Linked DNA regions of Homo sapiens. The protein of the gene in region 2 interacts with the protein of the main gene of each other region in a pairwise test. Each region holds a gene or a part of one and is shown on either strand. Other genes may lie near its edges.

What was found.
Region 1: the proteins of TFCP2 (region 2) and PIMREG interact in binary tests that used the Homo sapiens proteins (3 or more experiments, as listed by UniProt).
Region 3: the proteins of TFCP2 (region 2) and TSPAN12 interact in binary tests that used the Homo sapiens proteins (3 or more experiments, as listed by UniProt).
Region 4: the proteins of TFCP2 (region 2) and DNAJC5B interact in binary tests that used the Homo sapiens proteins (3 or more experiments, as listed by UniProt).

What each region holds. Positions count from the first base shown.
Region 1 is NC_000017.11:6,447,455-6,452,023, reverse strand, and holds the end of PIMREG (protein PIMREG), read right to left. Parts: intron 4,562-4,569; coding exon 4,266-4,561; intron 3,002-4,265; exon of another isoform or gene 2,713-3,001; coding exon 2,617-2,712; intron 2,321-2,616; coding exon of another isoform or gene 2,263-2,320; exon of another isoform or gene 1,997-2,262; coding exon 1,966-1,996; 3' UTR 1,952-1,965; exon of another isoform or gene 1,663-1,951; coding exon of another isoform or gene 1,602-1,662; 3' UTR 555-1,601; downstream 1-554. UniProt on the Homo sapiens protein: During mitosis, may play a role in the control of metaphase-to-anaphase transition.
Region 2 is NC_000012.12:51,107,089-51,114,142, forward strand, and holds part of TFCP2 (alpha-globin transcription factor CP2), read right to left. Parts: intron 3,896-7,054; coding exon 3,789-3,895; intron 2,186-3,788; coding exon 2,033-2,185; intron 259-2,032; coding exon 148-258; intron 1-147.
Region 3 is NC_000007.14:120,786,820-120,792,198, reverse strand, and holds the end of TSPAN12 (tetraspanin-12), read left to right. Parts: intron 1-3,301; coding exon 3,302-3,607; 3' UTR 3,608-4,879; downstream 4,880-5,379. UniProt on the Homo sapiens protein: Regulator of cell surface receptor signal transduction. Plays a central role in retinal vascularization by regulating norrin (NDP) signal transduction.
Region 4 is NC_000008.11:66,024,553-66,031,552, forward strand, and holds part of DNAJC5B (dnaJ homolog subfamily C member 5B), read left to right. Parts: intron 1-7,000.

The DNA.
Region 1 (4,569 bases), on a different chromosome or scaffold from region 2:
CTGTGCCCTGGAGTCTTTCATGAGGCACGTGGGTCCTCTGCATCCTCACTCTCCCCCCTAGCCCAGGTGCAGCCCCGGGAGGGGTGCCCTGACCCCGCCTTAAACAACCAACTTTCCCACCGAATCCCATCGGCGGGCGGGGGGGGGGGGTTTGGGTGCCAAGTGCCCTGGAAACCTATTGTCTTTTGGCTCAGCCAAAAGAAACATTCCCTCCTTCCTTTCCTTCCGGGCTTGGGGGAAACCTTCGTAAAAATCATAGTTAGGGTTAAGTCCAAGCAGTGAGGCCTGACCTGGGCTCTGCTCTCCTTGTTGAGACACTAACAGGCAGTTGGGAGGAAAATCTGCATTTGACTCCACCCTCTTTGGGGCAAAGGAGAAACAGGTGACCCGAGGGGGGGCAGGCCAGAGGAGGGCGACTCGTGCACAGGGACCCCCACCCTTGGACCCCGCTGTCCTTTTCTAGTTGTTTACTTGGTGGTGGCAGCCAGTCTGACCTTGTCTGTGGTCTGACTGTTCCTAAGTGTGTAACTTTCAGTATTATCTGTGACAGATGGTTCTGTGGTGAAAAAGGTTTATTATATTCCTTATGGCTGCCTTGTACAAAATCCGTTAGAAACGCTAATGTAAGATATCAGATTTCTAACAAGACAAAAACAGCATTATGGAGTTAAAAGATTTTTACAACTGGGTCTTGATTTTGATGTGAGCTGGTTTTTAGCTCTCAAATGTTGTCACTTAAATAAAAACCTTCTTTGCCTTTACAATGTGTTTTGGTCTGAACTAAGTTGAGAAACCTTTCCCTTTCTACATGTTCTCCCTGGGGTGGGATTGGGGGCAGACTGGCTCGGAGCAGAGGTGGATGAGGGCCAGACCCCAAACCACAAATTACAAATCTATAGCCCAGAGTGGTGTGGGAGGGCGGGGGAGGTTGGAGGTTGCCGGTGAAAGGGAACAGATGTCAAATGCAAATAGTCTTTATTATGAGAAAGCAGTGTTATCTAGGAAAGTCACACGCTGGTTTCTTTCTAATAAAATGACAAAGCAGGTTTCTTAAATAATTTACAAAGGGCAGAAATTGCTCTTGAACAGGGCTACCCCTCCTGGCACATCCACAGTGCTCTGCACTGAGCATATAAATAGGTACCCGTGAGCCCAGGGTCGTAAGCCTGGAAATATCTCCTATGCCTTCCTCCGAGTCCCTGGTAGGGAAAGGAGGGATGAGAGTGGGGCCCTCAAGAGCCTTGGCACCAGAAACACAGTGGGTGAGTGACTCTGCGGATGACTCCCCAAAAACCAGGCACCCGGGTACAGAGCTAAGAGCTCTCAAATATCTGATGCTAGCACTTCATGTTATAGATGAGGCAAATAGAAGGCTCAAGGTCAAGTGTACGATGAGTTTCTAAGCTCAAGAGTCCCCTAGGAAAGCAGAAGGAACAATTCTCCCCCTCTGCAAGGTCTCCCCAAGACACTCTCAGGCTATGGCAGGCAGTCACTGATGGGTCCAGATGTGGCTGGAGCAGGGGGCTCTGGGCCCCTTGTTAGGTGCTTGTTAGCAGTGGCCCAGGGGTACTGACGACTCCCGGGGGTTTTTTCCAGGAAGCTCACGGGGAAGCATAGACATCCTTGAGTATGAAGCCTTGGCGGTCAGACAGGGCTTGTTTCCTTCAAGACAGAGCTGCCTTTTTCACTGTGCTCAAGGTAGGAGAAGTAGGGATGCCTTTCCCTGCTCACTGCGGGGTGGGGGGTGCTGGAAGGTGGCTGTAGCTACTTGGGGCCCCCAGCGTGCTGTTAATGACGGGGTCAGTGAGGTTAGCAGCTCTGGCTTCAAGCGGCAAGTAGGTACTACCTACTCTGCTGTGCCCATCAGCTCTGTGGGCTTTTTCTTTAACTTGCTCATGCATGAGATGGAGGAGAAGGACAGTGAGAAAGACTCTTGGGAGGTGGGCATTACCTGCAGGCACTTCCTCAGTCATGAATGAGAGAGACGATGTCACCACTAGAGAGAAGGGGAGGGATTGATGCCACTGGGTGTGGTGGGCTCTGAGAGGGCCCTCCCAGCCTGAGCTACACAAGATCAGACCCGGAAATGTGGTAGGAATATGGCCCCTCAACACATAGAGCTGGCAGGGCCCAGCCTTAGAGCCCATCATGGCCATTATACAAGTGGAATGGGGAAACAGCCCCAAGTTAGGGGAGGTCCACAACCGAGGCCCTGCCCCCAGGATGGGGCCATGAGCAGACAGACCAGGAACTCCATAGCAGTCAGGTTGCTTTTCCCAATTCCATAGGCAGGCAGGGCACAGACGAGCCACGGAGAGTTCTGGAGGAAGGGCAGGTTTTTCAGGAACCAGCCACACGTGAGGTTCCAAGTGATGGACAAACATGGGGTCCCAAGGCCCAGAAGACCACACACATTCAGGCTACATCCTTTACCATCACCCCAGTCCAGGATTTTGTCCTTTCTCATGTTTGAGATGAGGGAGACTGAGGCCCAGAGAGGGGCAGAGACTGGCCAGGGTCACACAGCAGGTCAGAGCAGAACCAACGCCTGCCTACAAAGATGGCTGGAGGGGCCCTCCCGGCCCCTTCACTTTGAAGCATGGGATGCCAACTCACCTCTCTTCCGCCATAATGGCTTCATCTAGCTCTTGGGACAGCTTCTGGAGATGCTGAATTCCCGCCCCCACAGGCTCTAGGTCACTGTCAGACTCGCTGCATGAAAGAAAAAGCCACACCAGTGACTAGTTGGAAACTCCCGGCAGGAGACCCTTGCAACCCGGTACCGGGGTGTGGTCTGTGGGCCCAGATGACCCTGGCGGGCTGGGCTTCACTCCAGACCCTCACTCCAGGAGGTGACCTCAGAGCGACAAACAGAGAGAAGATCAAGATCCACGAGGCCAAGGTCACGGGCAAGTGATTTTGCAGCTTCCCCACTTGGAAACTGAGCCTCAGCTCTCCAGGTGGCTTCAAAACTTGCTTCTGGGCTCACTAGGAGGCTTGGGTGAGTGTGATTGTGTCAGAACTAAACTCAGCTCTTCCTTTACGGACAGAGAAACTAAGGTCCTAAAGGATTTTCTCAGGTCCCCTGCTGGCTCTGGACGCGGAACCGGGTCAGAATACAGATGTGGAGAGTATTTTTGAAGTGTACACAAGCCTTATTTTAGCTTACAGGTTTGCAAAGAGCCACCTGGTCACTTACATGCATCCTGGTGACTACCTGCCACAACACAGGTGCAGCGGCTAGGCAGCCTTCCCTGAGAGCTCCGAGATGGGACCAGGAAACTGCCAGGGACTGCCGATTGGGATGAGCTTCACCCCCTGCCCTGAGCCAGGCCACTTTCTGGGCCTGTCTGAGAACTAGAAGATTCTGCAAGGCAGGCCAGCTTGATCGGTGGGGCAGAACATCCAGATGATCTGGACCCCAGCCTTTACTCCTCTATTTCTTACAGGATGACCCTCAGGCTAATCACCAAACCCCTCCGGACCTCCGTTTCCTTACCTGTCAAATGGGACAAACAGAGCCTGCCTTAATTACAGCTCAAAGTTCCTATTAGGCTAAAGAAAGATGCTAGCCCTCAAAGAAATCTGGGGAAAAATTCAACAGCCCTAAGCTACTATGCAGCCTTAACTAACACACTCCATTTCCCCCTAGAACTCAGCCGGAAAGTTGAAATACAATCCTTAGGAATCTAGTTGTTGTTTTGTTTTCTTTCTCTCTCTCTTTTTTTTTTTTTTTTTTTTGAGACAGGGTCTGGCTCTGTGGCCCTGGCTGGAGTGCAGTGGCGCGATCTCAGCTCAATGCAACTTCCACCTCCCGAGTTCAAGCGATTCTCCTGCCTCAACCTCCCAAGGAGCTGGGATTACAGGCGTGCACCACCACGCCCAGCCAATTTTGTATTTTTAGTAGAGATGAGGTTTCACCATGTTGGCCAGACTGGTCTCCAACTCCTGACCTCAGGTGATCCACCCGCCTCGGCCTCCCAAAGTGCTGGGATTACAGGTGTGAGCCACTGCGCCCAGCCTGTTTTCTCATTTTCTGATGAGCAAATACATGCACTGGATATCTGCTAAAGCAGGACACACATTTAACAGTAAGAATAATAATAATACAATATGACGCTGCTCAGGGTGCCCCTGGCTCCAGGTAGCCACAGGGGGTGCCAAGAAACCCCTAGGGCCCAGTTGGTGTCTGGGAGGTCAGACAGCAGGGATTGTGCCCAGGTTAAAAGGCCACCAGCCCCGGGGTGAAGCACTATCCCACTTGCCTGGGAGAGCAGAGGGGCTCTGTTGAGGAGTAGGGGCTCCGGAAGGCAGCCTCCCGCCTTGATCGCCGTAATGGGTGGGCATGTGAGCCCATCCGGACAGAGAGGCGGTGATGCTCCTTCTCCCAGGGGTCTGCGGCTGAGTGGGCAGGGGCGGCTCCAGACAGCCGGGTGCTCTTCTGGCTCAGGCTGTGAGTTGGGGATCCACTGCCCTTCTGTGCTCCTCTCTTCCGCCTCCTGGCCTTCACCTGGGTCTCCACCAGCCACTTGGTGCCACTTTGGCAGGACTCCTGGATTCTCTGGAACA
Region 2 (7,054 bases):
TTCCTGTTAAGGCCGCTGGACACAGAATCCATGTGATACTGTGTCCCTCAAGGCTTAGGAGAAGTAAATTCTGACCAGTTTGGAAGTGATGAATTTTTAAGATTAAAAATTATGAACTGAAATTGTCACCAAAAGAAATCTTTTTACCTCTGTGAGTATGGTTGTCTCATAGGAAGGCTGATATTTCTCCTTTTCATGAGGTGTTCGTTTCTCCATTTTTTCCCTATCCGTTTTTTGCTTTCTGTCTGCACCTTTGGGCTGAAATGAGAAATATTTTGTTTTAAATTCAGGTACTCACCTTTTAACCCAAAATATTGCTTCCAAAAACTTAAATATTCATGTATGAAACAAAATTGTATGTGCAGTGATGTAAAGGCAAGACACATCACTTTAAGTTTGAAAATAGGAAATTTAAATGTTTATATTCGATGGAGTTGAAAAGAATCAGATCTATAGCTACTGACATGGAAAGATCTCTAAAGCACATAGTTCACTGAAAAAAATCAAGTCTCAAAACATTTCTTTCTTTTTTTTTTGAGACGGAGTCTCATCCTGTCACACAAGCTGGAATGCGGTGGCGAGATCTTGGCTCACTGCAACCTCCGCCTCCAGGGTTCAAATTATTCTCCTGCCTCAGCCTCCCCAGTAGCTGGGACTACAGGCGTCCGCCACCACACCCAGCTAATTTTTTATCTTTAGTAGAGACGGGGTTTCACCATTTTGGTCAGGCTGGTCTTAAACTCCTGACCTTGTGATCCGCCCACCTCGGCCTCCCAAAGTGCTGGGATTACAGGCATGAGCCACCGTGCCTAGCCTCAAAACATTTCAAATAGTATAATCCCATTTATGTGTCAAAGAAAATATGTATATAGCTATGTATGTGTGTGTATAAAAGCATAGGAAGGAACTAGAAGAGCTGGGCGCAGTGGCTCATGCCTGTAATCCCAGCACTTTGGGAGGCCGAGGCAGGCGGATTGCCTGAGGTCAGGAGTTCGAGACCAGCCTGGCCAACATGGCGAAACCCTGTCTCTACTAAAAATACAAAAAATTAGCTGGGCATGGTGGTGTGTGCCTGTAGTCCTAGGTGCTGGGGAGGCTGAGGCGTGAGAACAGCTTGAACCCAGGAGACGGAGGTTGCAGTGAGCTGGCACTGCACCACTGCATTCCAGCCTGGGTGACAGAGTGAAACTCCGACTCAAAAAAAAAAAAGAAGAGGGAAGTAGAAGAACACATACGAAATTATGAAATTATGACAGTGGTTTCCTCTGGGAAGAGGTTGTGGAGGGGGTCAGTGTAAGAGTAGTAAAGGGAGAATTTCAGTGTTGCTATGAATACCTCTGTATTATTCAATCTCTTACAATGAGAACATATTTATTCATGTGATAAAAATAAACAGGACCCTGGCTGGGGCACAGTGGCTTACACCTGTAATCCCAGTACTTTGGGAGGCCAAGGAGGGCAGATAACTTAAGCCCGGGAGTTCAAGGCCAGCCTGGGCAACATGGCAAGACCCCCTCTCTATAAAAAATACAAAAATTAGCCCGGTGTGGTGGCACATGCCTGTAGTCCCACTTACTGGGGAAGCTGAGGCAGGAAGATCAATTGAGCCCAGGAGGTTAAACTATGATTGCGTCACTGCACTCCAGCCTGGGTGACAAAATGAAACCCAGTCTCAAAAATAAATAAATAAATAAATAAGACCAAATAAGAAAAGATCAAGTATGAAAATAACCATAACTAGTCAATTTTTGTGAGCTTTACAAGAGCTTGTAACTTCAATAGGCTTTAAGAGCTTTCAATGAGAATCCATGTTCTTGCCTCTAGCCCTCTTTTCCAAGTTCCTATTATCCTACGACCATGTAAATTTCTTTACCAGGCATCTTGGTAATTATTTCAATGACTCTAGCTTAGACTTTTTGCGTGTGTGTGAGTTTTCAAAAAAAGACAAGTTGATTTTCTGACTTGGTAACTAATGTTAAAATAGAATGATAAGGTAAAAGAATCCAAGGGCCAGCACATTGCCCAGGAATACCTTGAAAACTTTGATCTGGCAGCTGGCCGAGTGTAAGTGCTCAGTATATTCCCCGTTTTCATTCTCCTTGAAGGTATCTATTTGTACTCGGAATGGCACCCCCTTTTCTCCACCATGTTTCCTCATAGTGAACTCTGTGCTAATACAGTGCACCTGAAAAGAATACAACAGCAAGGCTTCAGTACCGCTAGCTAGCCAAACCAGTTGGCAGTATTTTTTTAGCAACTATTAACAGCAAAACCTTTACCAGGCATTATGAATACCTACAAAAAACACTTTTCCTCTTTTTGATCTTGAAGAACTTACAATCTGATAGAGGAAATAGAAAAATGCTTTACAAATGCAAACAAAATAAAAGTACAGATCTAATGCTAACAAAAGCTACTGTGAGGAACTAAATTCATTAACTGCTTCAAAGAACACAGAGCTAGCAAAAGAGAAATGATTTATGTTAGTTAAAGTTTCCTCAATTTTAAGGAAGATTGTAGAAAGAGGAGTCACTACCCAGTCTGGGAACATAGTAAATATGAAAGTTCACAGCAATAGTGGAGAAAAAGGTTTGCTTGGCTACTGCATAAAGTCTAAGATTGGTGAATTTTTTTTTTTTTTTTTTTTGAGACTAAGTTTTGCTCTTGTCACCCAGGCTGGAATGCAATGGCACAATCTCGGCTCACCGCAACCTCCACCTCCCCGGTTCAAGCAATTCTCCTGCCTCAGCCTCCCAAATAGCTGGGATTACAGGCACACACCACCACGCCCTGCTAATTTTTGCATTTTTAGTAGAGACAGGTTTTCGCCATGTTGGCCAGGCTGGTCTCGAACTCCTGACCTCAGGTGATCTGCCTGCCTCGGCCTCCCAAAGTGCTGGGATTACAGGTGTGAGCCACGGCACCCAGCCTGGTGAATCTTAATAGAAGAACCTTGTCTGACTGACTACTCCACAAGATTATAGCTGAAAGTCTTAAAATCATATATATAAAGTGTTTACTTAACATAGTGACTATTTCATGTGAAGTATTAATAAACTAGTGGTTACTATAATTACTACAAATAAGGATTTTCAAGGACTCTACCCAAAGAACATAATCAGATACGCAAATCAAATTTTAAGTATAAATATGTTCAAAATAACATCACAGATAATAGTAAAAAATCAGGCCAATCAAGGCCGGGCATGGTGGCTCACACCTATAATCCCAGCACTTTGGGAGGCCAAGGTGGGTGGGTCACCTGAGGTCAGGAGTTCAAGACCAGCCTGGCTAGCATGGCGAAATCCCACCTCTACCAAAAATACAAAAATTAGCCAGGCATGGTGACATGCGCCTCTAGTCCCAGCTACTGGTGAGGCTGAGGCAAGAGAATCGCTTGAACTGGGAGGCAGAGGTTGTAGTGAGCCGAGATTGCACCACTCCACTCCAGATTGGGAGACAAAGCCTAGACACTGTCCCCCCCCAAAAAAATTATGCCAATCTAACTGCCAAATAATTGTTATGTAAATTATGGTACAACCAAGAAATGAAATATTATGCAGCCATTACCAAGCAATTTTGGGAGACACAAATAAATAAACTGGGGTATTAGAAGAGCAATTCAGAAACTCCTCAATGCTCTCAGGCACAGGTTAAAGAGCCTGGGCTTGACAGTCAGGCTAGAACCCTGTAAAGATTTCAAAGTTAACATGTTTTATCCTTTAAGAAATAAACTGATAGTAAGAGAGATACTCTTCAAAACTGGAACCCTATCTGCAACGCCTTACCTGAATAAACACAGATGTCCTCTTTGCAGGGTCCCACAGGAACTCCACTGTATTTAGTTGAGTTGGATTAGCCCTAGGATCGATTATACCCACAGACATCGGGATATCTGAGAAACAAAATGGTAATCATTGAACAATTTTGAGGGCCACTCAGTTTTAAATAAGAAAGCATTGATTCTTATATTACTCAATGTAGCTACCAAGATTTTTGTATATCACATCCTAAATTTCTTTGTTTTTTTTTTTTGTCGTTGTTGTTGTTTTTTATGGAGTCTTGTTCTGTTGCCCAAGCTGGAGTGCAGTGGTAACAGGCCTGGAGTGCAGTGGCACCATCTCAGCTCACTGCAACCTCTGCCTCCTGGGTTCAAACGATCCTCCTGCCTCTGCCTCCTGAGTAGCTGGGATTACAGGCCCGTGCCACCACGCCCGGCTAATTTTTTTGTATCTTTAGTAGAGATGGGGTTTCACCATGTTGGCCATGCTGCTCTCAAACTCCTGACCTCAGGTTATCCACCCACCTTGGCCTCCTAAAGTGCTGGGATTACAGGCTTGAGCCACTGTGCCCAGCCCACACCTTAAATTTCTTTTTTGTCAATGAAAATATTTGATTAGAGTAAAATTGACTTAAGTACTTTGCTTGAGCACCTTTTTTCCTCTTTAAAAAGTTTTTAAAATACGGCAATTAAAAAAATTATTTGGCCAGGCACGGTGGCTCACACCTGTAATCCCAGCACTTTGGGAGCCCAAGGCAGGCGGATCATGATGTCAGGAGTTCGAGACCAGCCTGACCAACATGACGTAACCTCATCTCTACTAAAAATACAAAAATTAGCCGGCCGTGGTGGCCCACACCTGTAATCCCAGCTACTCAGGAGGCTGAAGCAGGAGAATTGCTTGAACCTGGGAGGTGGAGGTTGCAGTGAGCCGGAGATCGAGCCACTGCACTCCAGCCTGGGTGACAAAGCAAGACTTCATCTCAAAAAAAAAAATTATTTTTAGGCCAGGCGTGGTGGCTTACACCTGTTATCCCAGCACTTTGGGAGGCCAAGGTGAGCGGATCACCTGAAGTCAAGAGTTCAAGACCAGCCTGGCCAACATGGCGAAACCCCGTCTCTACTAAAAAATACAAAAATTAGCCAGGCATGGTAGTGGGCATCTGTAATCCCAGCTACCTGAGAGGCTGAGGCAGAGAGAACTGCTTGAACCAGGGAGGCGGAGGTTGCAGTGAGCCAGTATTGCGCCACTGTGCTCCAGCCTGGGTGACAGAGCAAGACTGTCTCGAAAAACAAAAAAATCATTTTTAAATTGAGAAATAATAATTGTACATATTCATGGGCTATATAGTGATGTTTCAATACATATAATGCATAGTGATCAGATCAGGGTAATCAGCATATTCATTGTCTCAAACATCTGTCATTTCTTTGTGTTGGGAATGTTTAGTATCCTCCTTCTAGCTTAAAATATGGCAATTTAAAGGCAGTTTCCTTTTAATTTGTTAAAATCCTATTTAAGGTGGATTAAGTCTACACTATCATGAAAACTGTAATTTATAATCTATTTCAACTACAGTTTGAAAATTAGTTTCATTGCCAAAAGCACATTAAGAGTATTGCTATTGAAGGGGTGCAGCAGAGTGTCTATATGAAGGTAGAAAGCATTATATCATGAATGAAAGTGGGAAAATTTTAACATAAAGATTGATGCAGGCCAAGCGTGGTGGCTCACGCCTGCAATCCCAGTACTTTGGGAGGCCAAGGCGGGTGGATCATTTGAGGTCAGGAGTTCGAGACCAGCCTGGCCAACATGGTGAAAACTTGTCTCTACTACAAATATAAAAATTAGCTGGGCGTGGTTGTGGATGCCTATAATCCCAGCTACTCAGGAGTCTGAGGCATGAGAATGGCTTGAACCCGGGAGACAGAGGTTGCAGTGAGCCGAGATCATGCCATTGTACTCCAGCCTGGATGACAGAGCAAGACTCTGTCTCAAAAAAAAAAAAAAAAAGATGGTTGATGCTGACTTACCAAGTCATCAAATAATCCTATAACAGAGTGACAAATCTTTACTTAAAAGGGAAGCAAGAATTAATGGGTTTGAGTAGAACTTTTCTTTCCATTCCACACAGCAGATATTCAAATAGCATTCCCTGATTTCTCCTATTAATGATCAAACTGGGGAGTTAAGGCCAGGTAATATGTATTATCAGAACTGTGGTATTAACTATACTACTGTTTTGGTATCAATGATTCAAACAATAGAGCATCAAGTGGGTCCCACTCCACAATATTAGTTGTGTTAGATTCATCTTAAGGTCAACTTATCATACAGATATCAGGATCACTGCATGAGAACCAATGTTTTCTCAGGTAAAATTAGTAGCAGTTAAATTTTTCTTAACAACTATGTTTACCAAAAGGAAATTTTAACCAATTAGAAATCAGAGAGGCAGACACCATGAAAAGTGACTGCATGTGTATTTGTGAAGATCTTTCCTTTATACCCTATGACTTAGGAAAAACAAATTCTACTCTGTGTAGCAACGTGGGAAGACACAACTTAACTGCAAACCAAGTGACATAGCTTCTAATACCAGAACTCCCACTTTATAGTGCCTGGTTCTCAGGCACTAGTAAAATGAAGGAACTTTCAGCATGCTGGGGAAAAAAGTCTGCCCCTCTTTACAAACGCAAAACAAAATATCAGATCCTGAGCAGCCAAAACAATCGTGAAATAGAACAAAGTTGGAGTTCTCATGCTTCACGACTTCCAAACTGACTATAAAGCTACACTTAGCAAAATAGTGAGGTATAGGCATAAAGACAGACATTTAAACAAATGGAATAGAATAGACAGCCTACAAATAAGTATTCAAATATATGGTCAAATGAGTTTTGACAAGGGTGCAAGACCATTCAGTGGGGGAAAGAACAGTCTTTTCAACAAACGGTGTGGAGAAAACTGGGTATCCACATGCAAAAGAATGAAGTTGGGCCCTTCTTTCTGTATATGGTTTACCATACAACCTTTTTTGTATATGGTTGTACCATATACAAACACGAACTCAAAATGGACCTGTGACCTGAATATAAGACCTAAAACTATAAAACTCTTAGGAGAAAACATATGGGAAAAGCTTCTTGGCACTGAATTTGGCAATGATTTCTTGGATGTGGCACCAAAAGCACAGGGAATTAAAAAAAATTAGATAAATTGGACCACCTCAATGTAAAACTTTAGTGCATCAAAGGATAGTATCAACACAG
Region 3 (5,379 bases), on a different chromosome or scaffold from region 2:
GTGGCGGCTAGGCTGCCAGTTCTCACCAGGATTGCAGGCTCTTGGCTTTCTAGTCAGCTGAGGGGAGCAGGGATGGGAATAGGGCAAATGATAATTCCATAGCACTTGCTGTTCCTAAGAGATTCAGCAGCTTTTCGTGAATAAACGCTCCTCAGATTGCCGCAAGACTTTGGTTAATTTCCAGAATTCTAGAAAAATTGAGGTTAACAGGTTTTTTACCAGTGTTTTCATTGATTATATGAGTAGAGATTCTTTGGAGGTCCTTCCCATGCCAGTTTTGCTATGTCACTCTACAAGTGCTTTTTTGCCATGTTTTTAAAAGATAATAAGTTGAATTCATGACTTCCAAGGACCCCTCCCATTCTAGAGTGTTCAGTATTAATAGGTCTCATTCCCCAGCCATCCTAGGTGATAGAATTTACTGTACCATTTTAAAAATAAATGTGATTGTTTAAGATAAACTGAAATAGACTTTAAACAGTGCCAAGATATGAAACATGATAAACTGTACTTAATTATCAACCTCTGCCTTGTTTTATTCACAGATTTGAAAAGGAAACATTACTTTTCTGGCACAGTTTCTTAGCTTAAAATGAATTAGTCTAAAGAGGTAGGAGATCTTAAGCCAATATAGATACAATTTAAGCCCCAGAGACTATTGAAAGGGTAAAAATCAAGTAATTGACTGACAGCATTTCACAGAGTTGAATCATCGGCATATATATTTATTGAATGGCTTACTTTTTTGAATAACTAATACATTGTTATTAACTATAGTCACCACGTTGTATTGTAAACCTCTTGAACTTATTCCTCCTAACTGAAATTTTGTATCCTTGAATGGTTTACCTCTAAATCTTTTTTTTTTTTGAGACAAGGTCTCCCTCTGTTGCCCAGGCTGGAGTCCAGTGGGGCGATCTCAGCTCACTGCAACCTCTGCCTCCCGGGTTCAAGCAATTCTCATGTCTCAGCCTCCCGAGTAGCTGGGATTTCAGGCATGCACCACCATGCCCAGCTAATTTTTGTATTTTTAGTAGAGACAGTGTTTCACCATGATGGCCAGACTGGTCTCAAACTCTAAACCTCAAGTGATCTGCCCGCCTTGGCCTCCCAACGTGCTGGGATTACAGGCATGAGCCCCCACACCCAGCCAGTTTGCCTCTAATTCTGAAATCTATTATAATTATTATTACTAAAATATTAATATATTCATGCTAATTATTCACTAAAAGTCCATTTTTGTACTAAGTACCGAGCACATAGGTAAGGAATCAGCTAAACATGATCCAAGGCTGTTTTATATCAATTTCTTCAAAGATAGATGTGAGAAAATAGTGCCACATTATTTGGTAATGATGTTAAATGAAGTTGCCATGCAAATTAATTTTCCAGATGTCTGAAGCCAAACCTTTTTAACTTAACAAATTTTGAGGTGACTCTTCCCGAACTATGTAAAATATTTCTCTGCTTCATCAGGAAGCTAATGATCTAATGTCTCAGGAGCAAGTAATCATTTTGGACAGTTATCTCATTGTCCTGTAAAACAGTAGCAGCCACCTTGCTCTGTGCAGAAGTACTCACTGGTGACATAATGCTGTGCTTCTGGTGTTTTCATACTCTTTCATGAAGTGTTGTGCCTCGTACTTTTCCATTAATATCTGCTAATCATAGATTTTCCATCTATTTTTAATTTGATCTTTCTACTTTCTAATCTGTGAACTGACACATCAGACAAGAGATTGTACCTACTGGGTTCTTAACATGTATGAGGCACTATTCTAAGTGTTAAAATGTGTCTGTGCATTTAATCCTCCCAACATCTCAGACAGGTAAGCACTATTATCATCTATGTTTTTAGACAAGAAAACTGAAGCACAGAGAGATTAAGTAACTTGCCCCAAATGACATAGCAGTTCATGATCTTAACCATTATACTATACCGTTGAAGTGGCATCGTTCCTCTGGGGTAATACCCAAGGTTAGTTGTCTTAGGCCAAGGAAATCAAGGATGCGAACACACAAGGAGTGAGGTTAAGAGTGGAGGTTTAATAGGCACAAGAAAGAGAAGAACTCTCTCCTGCAGAGAGGGTTCCCGAGTGGGTTTTCCGGTCCACAGCAAAATGCAATAGGTTTTAAAGATGAGCTTGAGGAGGCGGAGTCTGATTTACACAGGGCACGAAAGATTGGTCAGATCAGGTGTACCATTCGCATAGTGCATGAAAATCTGGCCACCCCCCACCCTAATCTTTTATTGTGCAGATGGTCCTCTACTTGGCTGGCACCATATTACCTGTTTCTTTACTGTATACACAAAGACAAGGGACGATGGACCCTCCATGTTGAACATACGTGGCCCCCAGGTAGCCCTTTTCTGTTGGCACAGCTGCTGGCATTCACCTGTGCAAGCTTCCAGCTTGCTTGTCTATGTCTACAGCTCAATTTTTCAGGCAGTTCTATTAATGATTTTGGAGCTGCTTTTTGTTAAAAGGGAAATTCCACCGAGGACTCTTTTACCCTCACTATCTGCCTAAATAATTTCTATCTCCTGTATCACTGTGTCATATAAAGATGCTTATTAAAACAACACATAAACCTAAGAGTGAATGAGCTCTTATAGAATACTTGAGTGGAACTCTTTGTAAAATACTTAAATTTTGGTGAGTTGTCTTTGTGATGTCTATGTTAGTTTCCCACAGAATGTATGTCTATGTCTGTGTTTGTGCAAATTTCTTGTGTTTGTATCAAATAGGTTAAGGCGGCCAGAGAAGCGACTTTACCAAACCGGTGTTAAGTATTATTAAATCGTAAACATTGTGTGCCAGATCTGGCCTAATGCCTTTTTATGTGTTTGAAGTTTCACTGAAACCCAGCCACATTCATTCATTCACTTACCATCTATGGCTGCTTTCTTGTGACAGTGGCAGGGATGAGTAGTTGCCATAGAGACCATATGGCCCACAGAGCCCAAAATATTTACTATCTGTCTCTCTAAAAAAAGAAAACAAGTTTGTCAACCCCTGCTTTAGATGTTGGGTTTTATGTCAGTGGGCCTCAATTTCAGGTTTTGAGAAAGACAAAAGAAGGGGTTGGCTCATTGGAATCAGCTGGACAGGCTTTTCAAAAGCTACACACCTCCCTCTCTCCTTCTTCTCATCAGCTTTCCCTGAGAACCACTGTCTTAAACTTTATGATCCCAGTTAGTCTGATTTCATTAACTGATACAGATTGTTTGCTTTCATTAACTATTTTTGGCCTTCTGTAACATATCTAAAGTAATGTTGACCATGTATTTCTTTTACAGGGTTGTGGGAAGAAAATGTATTCCTTTTTGAGAGGAACCAAACAACTGCAGGTGCTGAGGTTTCTGGGAATCTCCATTGGGGTGACACAAATCCTGGCCATGATTCTCACCATTACTCTGCTCTGGGCTCTGTATTATGATAGAAGGGAGCCGGGGACAGACCAAATGATGTCCTTGAAGAATGACAACTCTCAGCACCTGTCATGTCCCTCAGTAGAACTGTTGAAACCAAGCCTGTCAAGAATCTTTGAACACACATCCATGGCAAACAGCTTTAATACACACTTTGAGATGGAGGAGTTATAAAAAGAAATGTCACAGAAGAAAACCACAAACTTGTTTTACTGGACTTGTGAATTTTTGAGTACATACTATGTGTTTCAGAAATATGTAGAAATAAAAATGTTGCCATAAAATAACACCTAAGCATATACTATTCTATGCTTTAAAATGAGGATGGAAAAGTTTCATGTCATAAGTCACCACCTGGACAATAATTGATGCCCTTAAAATGCTGAAGACAGATGTCATACCCACTGTGTAGCCTGTGTATGACTTTTACTGAACACAGTTATGTTTTGAGGCAGCATGGTTTGATTAGCATTTCCGCATCCATGCAAACGAGTCACATATGGTGGGACTGGAGCCATAGTAAAGGTTGATTTACTTCTACCAACTAGTATATAAAGTACTAATTAAATGCTAACATAGGAAGTTAGAAAATACTAATAACTTTTATTACTCAGCGATCTATTCTTCTGATGCTAAATAAATTATATATCAGAAAACTTTCAATATTGGTGACTACCTAAATGTGATTTTTGCTGGTTACTAAAATATTCTTACCACTTAAAAGAGCAAGCTAACACATTGTCTTAAGCTGATCAGGGATTTTTTGTATATAAGTCTGTGTTAAATCTGTATAATTCAGTCGATTTCAGTTCTGATAATGTTAAGAATAACCATTATGAAAAGGAAAATTTGTCCTGTATAGCATCATTATTTTTAGCCTTTCCTGTTAATAAAGCTTTACTATTCTGTCCTGGGCTTATATTACACATATAACTGTTATTTAAATACTTAACCACTAATTTTGAAAATTACCAGTGTGATACATAGGAATCATTATTCAGAATGTAGTCTGGTCTTTAGGAAGTATTAATAAGAAAATTTGCACATAACTTAGTTGATTCAGAAAGGACTTGTATGCTGTTTTTCTCCCAAATGAAGACTCTTTTTGACACTAAACACTTTTTAAAAAGCTTATCTTTGCCTTCTCCAAACAAGAAGCAATAGTCTCCAAGTCAATATAAATTCTACAGAAAATAGTGTTCTTTTTCTCCAGAAAAATGCTTGTGAGAATCATTAAAACATGTGACAATTTAGAGATTCTTTGTTTTATTTCACTGATTAATATACTGTGGCAAATTACACAGATTATTAAATTTTTTTACAAGAGTATAGTATATTTATTTGAAATGGGAAAAGTGCATTTTACTGTATTTTGTGTATTTTGTTTATTTCTCAGAATATGGAAAGAAAATTAAAATGTGTCAATAAATATTTTCTAGAGAGTAATGATTTGTCTCTGCCTACTTTTTAATACATTACAAGCACTTATGCCACTTGAGAAGATTGTCAAGGGGAGAAAAACATGAGAAAGAATGATTGCATAAAGTATTAATATTGATTTCCAAACTCCGGAATGGACCTATAAGAATATGTATTTTCACTGAGAAGAGTCAAAAAGATGCCCATTTTTCACTTTTGCTTTTTACCTAAATGTTAAATAATATACTTGTTTGAGATAATATAAAAATATGCCCATTTGTGTTCATCTTTTCAATGTTTGCATATCACAGTTTTATAACTTATTAATTTTTAAGAGACTATGAGTCTCTTAGTTAATTTCAAATTCTCTTCAAATGAGTTAAGGAATATAATCCTTGAAATTGACTGCCATGTTTAAAATCTTCCATAGATTTTAATGAAAACTGAGTACATTACTTGTTCAATCAGAGCCAAAAGCATCCCTTTTAATAACTTCCTCAATACCCCAAATCCCTGTAATTTCACCT
Region 4 (7,000 bases), on a different chromosome or scaffold from region 2:
TCTCCCAATGCTATCCCTCCCCCCTCCCCCGACCCCACCACAGTCCCCAGAGTGTGATATTCCCCTTCCTGTGTCCATGTGATCTCATTGTTCAATTCCCACCTATGAGTGAGAATATGCGGTGTTTGGTTTTTTGTTCTTGCGATAGTTTACTGAGAATGATGGTTTCCAATTTCATCCATGTCCCTACAAAGGACATGAACTCATCATTTTTTATGGCTGCATAGTATTCCATGGTGTATATGTGCCACATTTTCTTAATCCAGTCTATCATTGTTGGACATTTGGGTTGGTTCCAAGTCTTTGCTATTGTGAATAGTGCCTCAATAAACATACGTGTGCATGTGTCTTTATAGCAGCATGATTTATAGTCCTTTGGGTATATACCCAGTAATGGGATGGCTGGGTCAAATGGTATTTCTAGTTCTAGATCCCTGAGGAATCGCCACACTGACTTCCACAATGGTTGAACTAGTTTACAGTCCCACCAACAGTGTAAAAGTGTTCCTATTTCTCCACATCCTCTCCAGCACCTGTTGTTTCCTGACTTTTTAATGATTGCCATTCTAACTGGTGTGAGATGATATCTCATAGTGGTTTTGATTTGCATTTCTCTGATGGCCAGTGATGATGAGCATTTCTTCATGTGTTTTTTGGCTGCATAAATGTCTTCTTTTGAGAAGTGTCTGTTCATGTCCTTCGCCCACTTTTTGATGGGGTTGTTTGTTTTTTTCTTGTAAATTTGTTTGAGTTCATTGTAGATTCTGGATATTAGCCCTTTGTCAGATGAGTAGGTTGCGAAAATTTTCTCCCATGTTGTAGGTTGCCTGTTCACTCTGATGGTAGTTTCTTTTGCTGTGCAGAAGCTCTTTAGTTTAATTAGATCCCATTTGTCAATTTTGGCTTTTGTTGCCATTGCTTTTGGTGTTTTGGACATGAAGTCCTTGCCCACGCCTATGTCCTGAATGGTAATGCCTAGGTTTTCTTCTAGGGTTTTTATGGTTTTAGGTCTAACGTTTAAATCTTTAATCCATCTTGAATTGATTTTTGTATAAGGTGTAAGGAAGGGATCCAGTTTCAGCTTTCTACATATGGCTAGCCAGTTTTCCCAGCACCATTTATTAAATAAGGAATCCTTTCCCCATTGCTTGTTTTTCTCAGGTTTGTCAAAGATCAGATAGTTGTAGATATGCGGCATTATTTCTGAGGGCTCTGTTCTGTTCCATTGATCTATATCTCTGTTTTGGTACCAGTACCATGCTGTTTTGGTTACTGTAGCCTTGTAGTATAGTTTGAAGTCAGGTAGTGTGATGCCTCCAGCTTTGTTCTTTTGGCTTAGGATTGACTTGGCGATGCGGGCTCTTTTTTGGTTCCATATGAACTTTAGTTTTTTCCAATGCTGTGAAGAAAGTCATTGGTAGCTTGATGGGGATGGCATTGAATCTGTAAATTACCTTGGGCAGTATGGCCATTTTCACGATATTGATTCTTCCTACCCATGAGCATGGAATGTTCTTCCATTTGTTTGTGTCCTCTTTTATTTCCTTGAGCAGTGGTTTGTAGTTCTCCTTGAAGAGGTCCTTCACATCCCTTATAAGTTGGATTCCTAGGTATTTTATTCTCTTTGAAGCAATTGTGAATGGGAGTTCACTCATGATTTGGCTCTCTGTTTGTCTGTTGTTGGTGTATAAGAATGCTTGTGATTTTTGTACATTGATTTTGTATCCTGAGACTTTGCTGAAGTTGCTTATCAGCTTAAGGAGATTTTGGGCTGAGACGATGGGGTTTTTGCGGTTTTGAAGTTTCAAATCTCTCCAGTAAAATGAAACACAGGTATGCCAAGCAAACTTTTGAAATGTTTTCTCTTGAATTACCGGAGAAGATGCAGCCTTGACAAGTTTTATTTAAGAGGCTTGGAAGGAAAAAAAGCAAAAGGAAGCTACCTCTCTGAAGATCCTGAGAGAGCAGAGTCTCCTCTTGCTGCCGTCCCCTGAGGCGCCTTGGCAGGCGGCCACACTGGATCTCCGACACGCGCAGGACACTGCCTGTCATCCCAGCCCAGCCCCCATGCCCACTCTCCCAAGAATTGTGCAACAGGGCCTTTGTAACCTGAGGCCTGTGAAGTCTGTGGAGGAATGTGACCCAGAGCCAAGGGGCGTTGGTGCCACCAGGGCTGAGAAGGAGCTCTCCTGCTGTTTACCCTGCTATCCCATGGGAACCTCAGAAGGGGGAAGGTTATGCTCTAAAATGCATGGGGAGTCAAGTCCTTGGCACAGCTGTGAAGCAAGCACTCTAGTTAGTGTCTTTTCCCCTCATCTTTGCTGACCTCCGGAGGCATGCTTCATGCTGCTCCAGAGAGTAGAACCCAATGTGCTTTAATTTTTATTGTATTTGTATAAATATATGGGGTACAAGTGCAATTTTTAAAAATGCATAGATTGTGTAGTGGTCAAGTTTGGGCTTTTAGGATACCCATCACCTGATCCCCTCATCCTCCTTTCAAGCCACTCCTCGTCCTCCTCCTCTTAATTGTGTCTCCTACTGAAAGCTACAAGTTGTGGTCCCATTATTCCAATGCCCTGTAAGGGTAAAGGGTATCCTGCTGTCTGGGGAGCAGGGATCCATATTAAATGTGATGTGGATGGTAGAGTGCCAGGCACTGGTGGCAGGACAGCCCCGGAAATCTTTGAGATTCATTGATTTACAAAACCAGCTTCCTGCCTCCTCTCCTCACCTCTTCCATAGACATCTTCCTCCAATATGACAAGTACACAATCTGGCCACCATAATACTTGGGGTTGTCCCGTCTCTTCTGCCTGGGGAAAATGTTACGAGCTGAGTCATGAATACTGTCCTTTTAAGTTACCCAAACATCATGATGGCCACACAAATGGAGCTCTAACCAAAAGGAAGTGAAAGATTCACTCTCAGTCTTGCCATTTAAGTGGTGTGGAGTACTATGGCATGTAATTCACTATAAATGAAAGTTCCACATTTTTATATTACCAATATTGTTGTCACAAAAGGTGGTCTCAGGAAAACAGACGTTTTAGCCAGTTGAGAAGACAACTTACTTGGCAACTAGAAGACCAGTATTTTCGTCCTTTCAAGTATATTTAGAATGCAAAATCATTATTATTACGAGAGGGAAAGCCTTTTTTTAATGTTAGGATATGTTCCTCTGCATGGTAGGAACTGACGCTATCTCCCTCCCCGCATCAAGCTTATCTCCTCTCATACTATGTCCTTTCAAGGAGGTTGTTTTCCACACTCCTTTCTATGCCAAATGAATTCAATGTCAGTTTCAATCCCGTTTGTATTTTTGAAAACTTAATATGCACCTGGGACTGTACTAGGCACTGTGACAACAGCAAAATAAAATGTTTGACATAAGTTGGGCTCTTTAAGAGTTAAGAATTTAGTTGAGACAAGATGTACACCTGCAAAGAGTTCAAAAGCAAAGAGGAAACTACAAAACTATGTGAAAAATGTGCGCACTGTGAACTTCAAAGTGCCCCAGGGGCTCAGAGCGAAGAAGCAGTGTTGTCTGGAGTGTTCAGGTTGCTCATGAGGGCAGGTCAGCACTGGGACTTGGGAGGAATCTTGAAAGGAAGAGAAACAGACTATGACTGATTGACACAAACTTAGGGAGAAAAACAATTTCCTAGTGAAAATTTTGGCCCCGGCACAACCGCTCTTCTCTTACTCACCGGCGCTCATGTCCACTCTACCTGCGCTTTGACAACTCATTCTTGGCGTGCAAAGCAAATAATTCACTTTGCTTCATTGGGATATGAAAAAGAGGAGTCATGGAAACACAAGGACACCAGGAAGAATAAAATGAACTCTAACAGGTGGTTTCTGTGAACCGCCCTGCATGCTGAAACCAGGGCTGTGTCTGATTTTAATTAGGCACGAGGGCTTCTAGAGCCTACACCCTGAAGTCAACATGTTCCAAAACTAATTCATTATCTTTGGCAAACCTGTTCCCCCTTTGTGATTCCCACCTCAGCCAACGGGCCTCACCATATTCCCAGTTTCTCTGGCGAGGATCTCAGGTCCCCTCTGATCCCCGAGTCACTCTCTACTGCTGCATTCGGTCATTGAACATTGAGCCTAGGGGGTTGGATCTCCACATCTTTCCCGAACCCATCACCTCAGCCAGTTCTTCCTGCTGCCACCCTGGTCTGGGCCCTCATCTCCTCATCTTCCTCTAAGATCACTCATCTCTCCAACCTCATTTCTCTGCACTCGTTGGCCACGCCTTTCTAAAATAGAAACCGGCACTCCCCAGTTTCAAGTTTTTCCCGTTGTTTATAAAACGAGGACTAAACTCCTTTGCTTGGTTTTCAAGGCCTCTCACCTTCTCTAGCTTCACTGGACCAAGCCTCTCCCCTTGGCTACCCATTTATCCATTCTTCCCCACCTCTTATGCACCAGGTAGATCTGTCTGCCTTCAATTTTCCAGCTTGCCCAATACTTTTCTTGCCTCCATGGTCTTGCTCATGCAATTTCTTCAGCTTTTCTGATAGTTGAACTCCTAATCCGGCCTCCTCCAGGATTCCTGCTTCACATGGACCACTGCTTTCCTCTCTCTGCTTCCTACCTTCATCATTTGTGACATTCTCCTGACATTTAAAAAATTTGACCCTTTGCGCTGAAGGAGTGAGCCAGGTGGGATTGGGAGACCAGGGCAAAGGGAGTAGAAGAATGTTTTGAGACAGGGAACAGCATGTGTAAAGACTCAGAGGACAGAGACAATGGTGTATTCATGGAGCTAAACAGTGTATAGTAGTTAGTAGAAACTGGGTTTGAGTGGACAGGATGGCATTGGGAAGAAGTGGCACTGGAGGAAGAGGCAGGGGCAAGTCCGTGGGGCTGGCCCTGCTAAGAAGCTGGACTTTTAGCTAAAGATCAATGGGCAAGTTTGAAGAGTTATCAGCAGGGCAGTGATGAGATAACATTTGCATTTGAAAGGGATGTAGTATATGGGGACCAGAGAAAGACTGGAGAAAGGACTGTCAGTTAGGAGGCTGGCAGGAGATAATAAGCTTGGTCAAGGGTAGTGACCAAGTTCACTACCTCTATTCAAGAAACAGAGGAAGAGAGTGGACTTTAGAGCTTTAGAAAGGAGATGTGATTAGGCCTGGTTAATTGATCGGCCTGGTTTAAATGGAGAGGGTGAGTGAAAGGAGACACCTGGGTTTCTGGCATGGCCCAGAAATGAAACTATCCATGCCACAGTATCACTTCCTGCTGATGCCCTCTAAAGAGACTGGATCTCTCTCCCTTCTCAGAGCTGAAACTTTTGACAGTGAGGGTGGGGGTGGTCGAGAGCCCCTCAGACATTTGCTTTGGAGAAGACACTTCCAGTTGATATGGGGCCTGGATCTCATTCATTTGTTACAGTCTCCAGGGCAACTAGTTATTCAATAAACCTTGGTGAATAAACAACTGTGCCTATAAATACTGTTCCTGGTAGTCTTCCTGTTATGTTTTCTAAAAAATATTGGGCATTTTATCTTTTATTGCCCTTCATAGTGTAAATGTAATGGAGCCTGTCTTCCTCCCCAACTCAGATTTCAGTTGAAAGTCTTCATCAGGAGGCGAGTCTTCTGCCAGCCGGGTTATTTGATAGACTTCGTAGTCTTCATGGTGCTCCTTGATGGCTATTTAATGTCTGGTAGCTCAGAGTCATGACCAGAAAATCAACTGTGTCCTTTGACACCTTCCTGGGCCAATGTCCATTTCCTACATCTTCTTTTCTCTTCAAAGTCATGGCCTGTACAACAAAAGATTAAAATCCCCTGGAGACCTATGTCCTTTATTCCTACCTAGAACCTTAAAGGAACTAAACATACCATTTCTTCTGACTGCATCTTTTCTTATGAATCATTTCAAGGCATACTCATGTTGTCAGAAAGTAGTTCATCTCCAGAATCATGGGTCACAATGGACTTGCTGTGTCCTTCCCCTGCCACCACTGCCCCCTTCCTCTACTGGTAAGCCCACCTGCTAGAGTGGGGAGATCTCCTTCTCTTCCTCCTCCACCTGCAGTATGTGCTTTTGTGGCATGTTCTTTTTTTTTCTTTTCTTTTTTCTGAGACAGTGTCTTGCTCTGTCACTCAGGCTGGATTGCAGTGGCAAGATCTCAGCTCACTGCAACCTCTGCCTCCCAGGTTCTAGCGTTTCTTGTGCCTCAGCCTCCCGAGTAGCTGAGATTACAGGTGCCCACCACCATGCCCTGCTAATTTTTGTATTTTTCATAGAGATGGGGTTTCACCATGTTGGCCAGGCTGGTCTTGAACTCCTGACCTCAAGAGATCTGCCTACCTCGTCCTCCCAAAGTGCTGAAATTACAGGCATGAATCTTTCCTTATTCACATCTTGAGGCTGCTCACAGTCCTCCCTTGTGTCTGGAATCTCATAGTGATGGCTTTCTCCTGGGCTTATGCTCGTGAGAGCCCCTCACCACCTCTATAAGTTGCAGAAGCAATCATTGAGCACTTTCTTCAGCCACTTTAGCAGACAGTCAGGTTTGCATATCAGTGATTTCATCATAACTAGGGAATGGTAAAATCATAGTACAATTAATATGATTCTTTAATTTTAAAGAACTATACAAATAGAAGGTAGTTATCAATATAAATTTAAAAATGTCTTTCCCAGAGTTTAAGGTAATGATATTGCCACAATTGATACACACATATGTTATTATAAATGCTCATTTTAGAAGATGAAATATACCATCTGAATGGCATACAAATAATAAGTGCTACTTAGGTCATTATTGGCATTTCCTCCTACCTCTTAAACAACATAATTTCAATCAGCTTTACATTTAGACATCATTTCTTGCTTAGTTTTGACATAACAGAATTAGCAATCATTAAAAGCAACCTATTTTTTTTAAGCACCTACTGTATTAGTCAGGGTTCTTCAGAGAAGCAGCACCAGTAGGAGAGATGGATATATGTGTGTAATGTATGCATTTTGTATA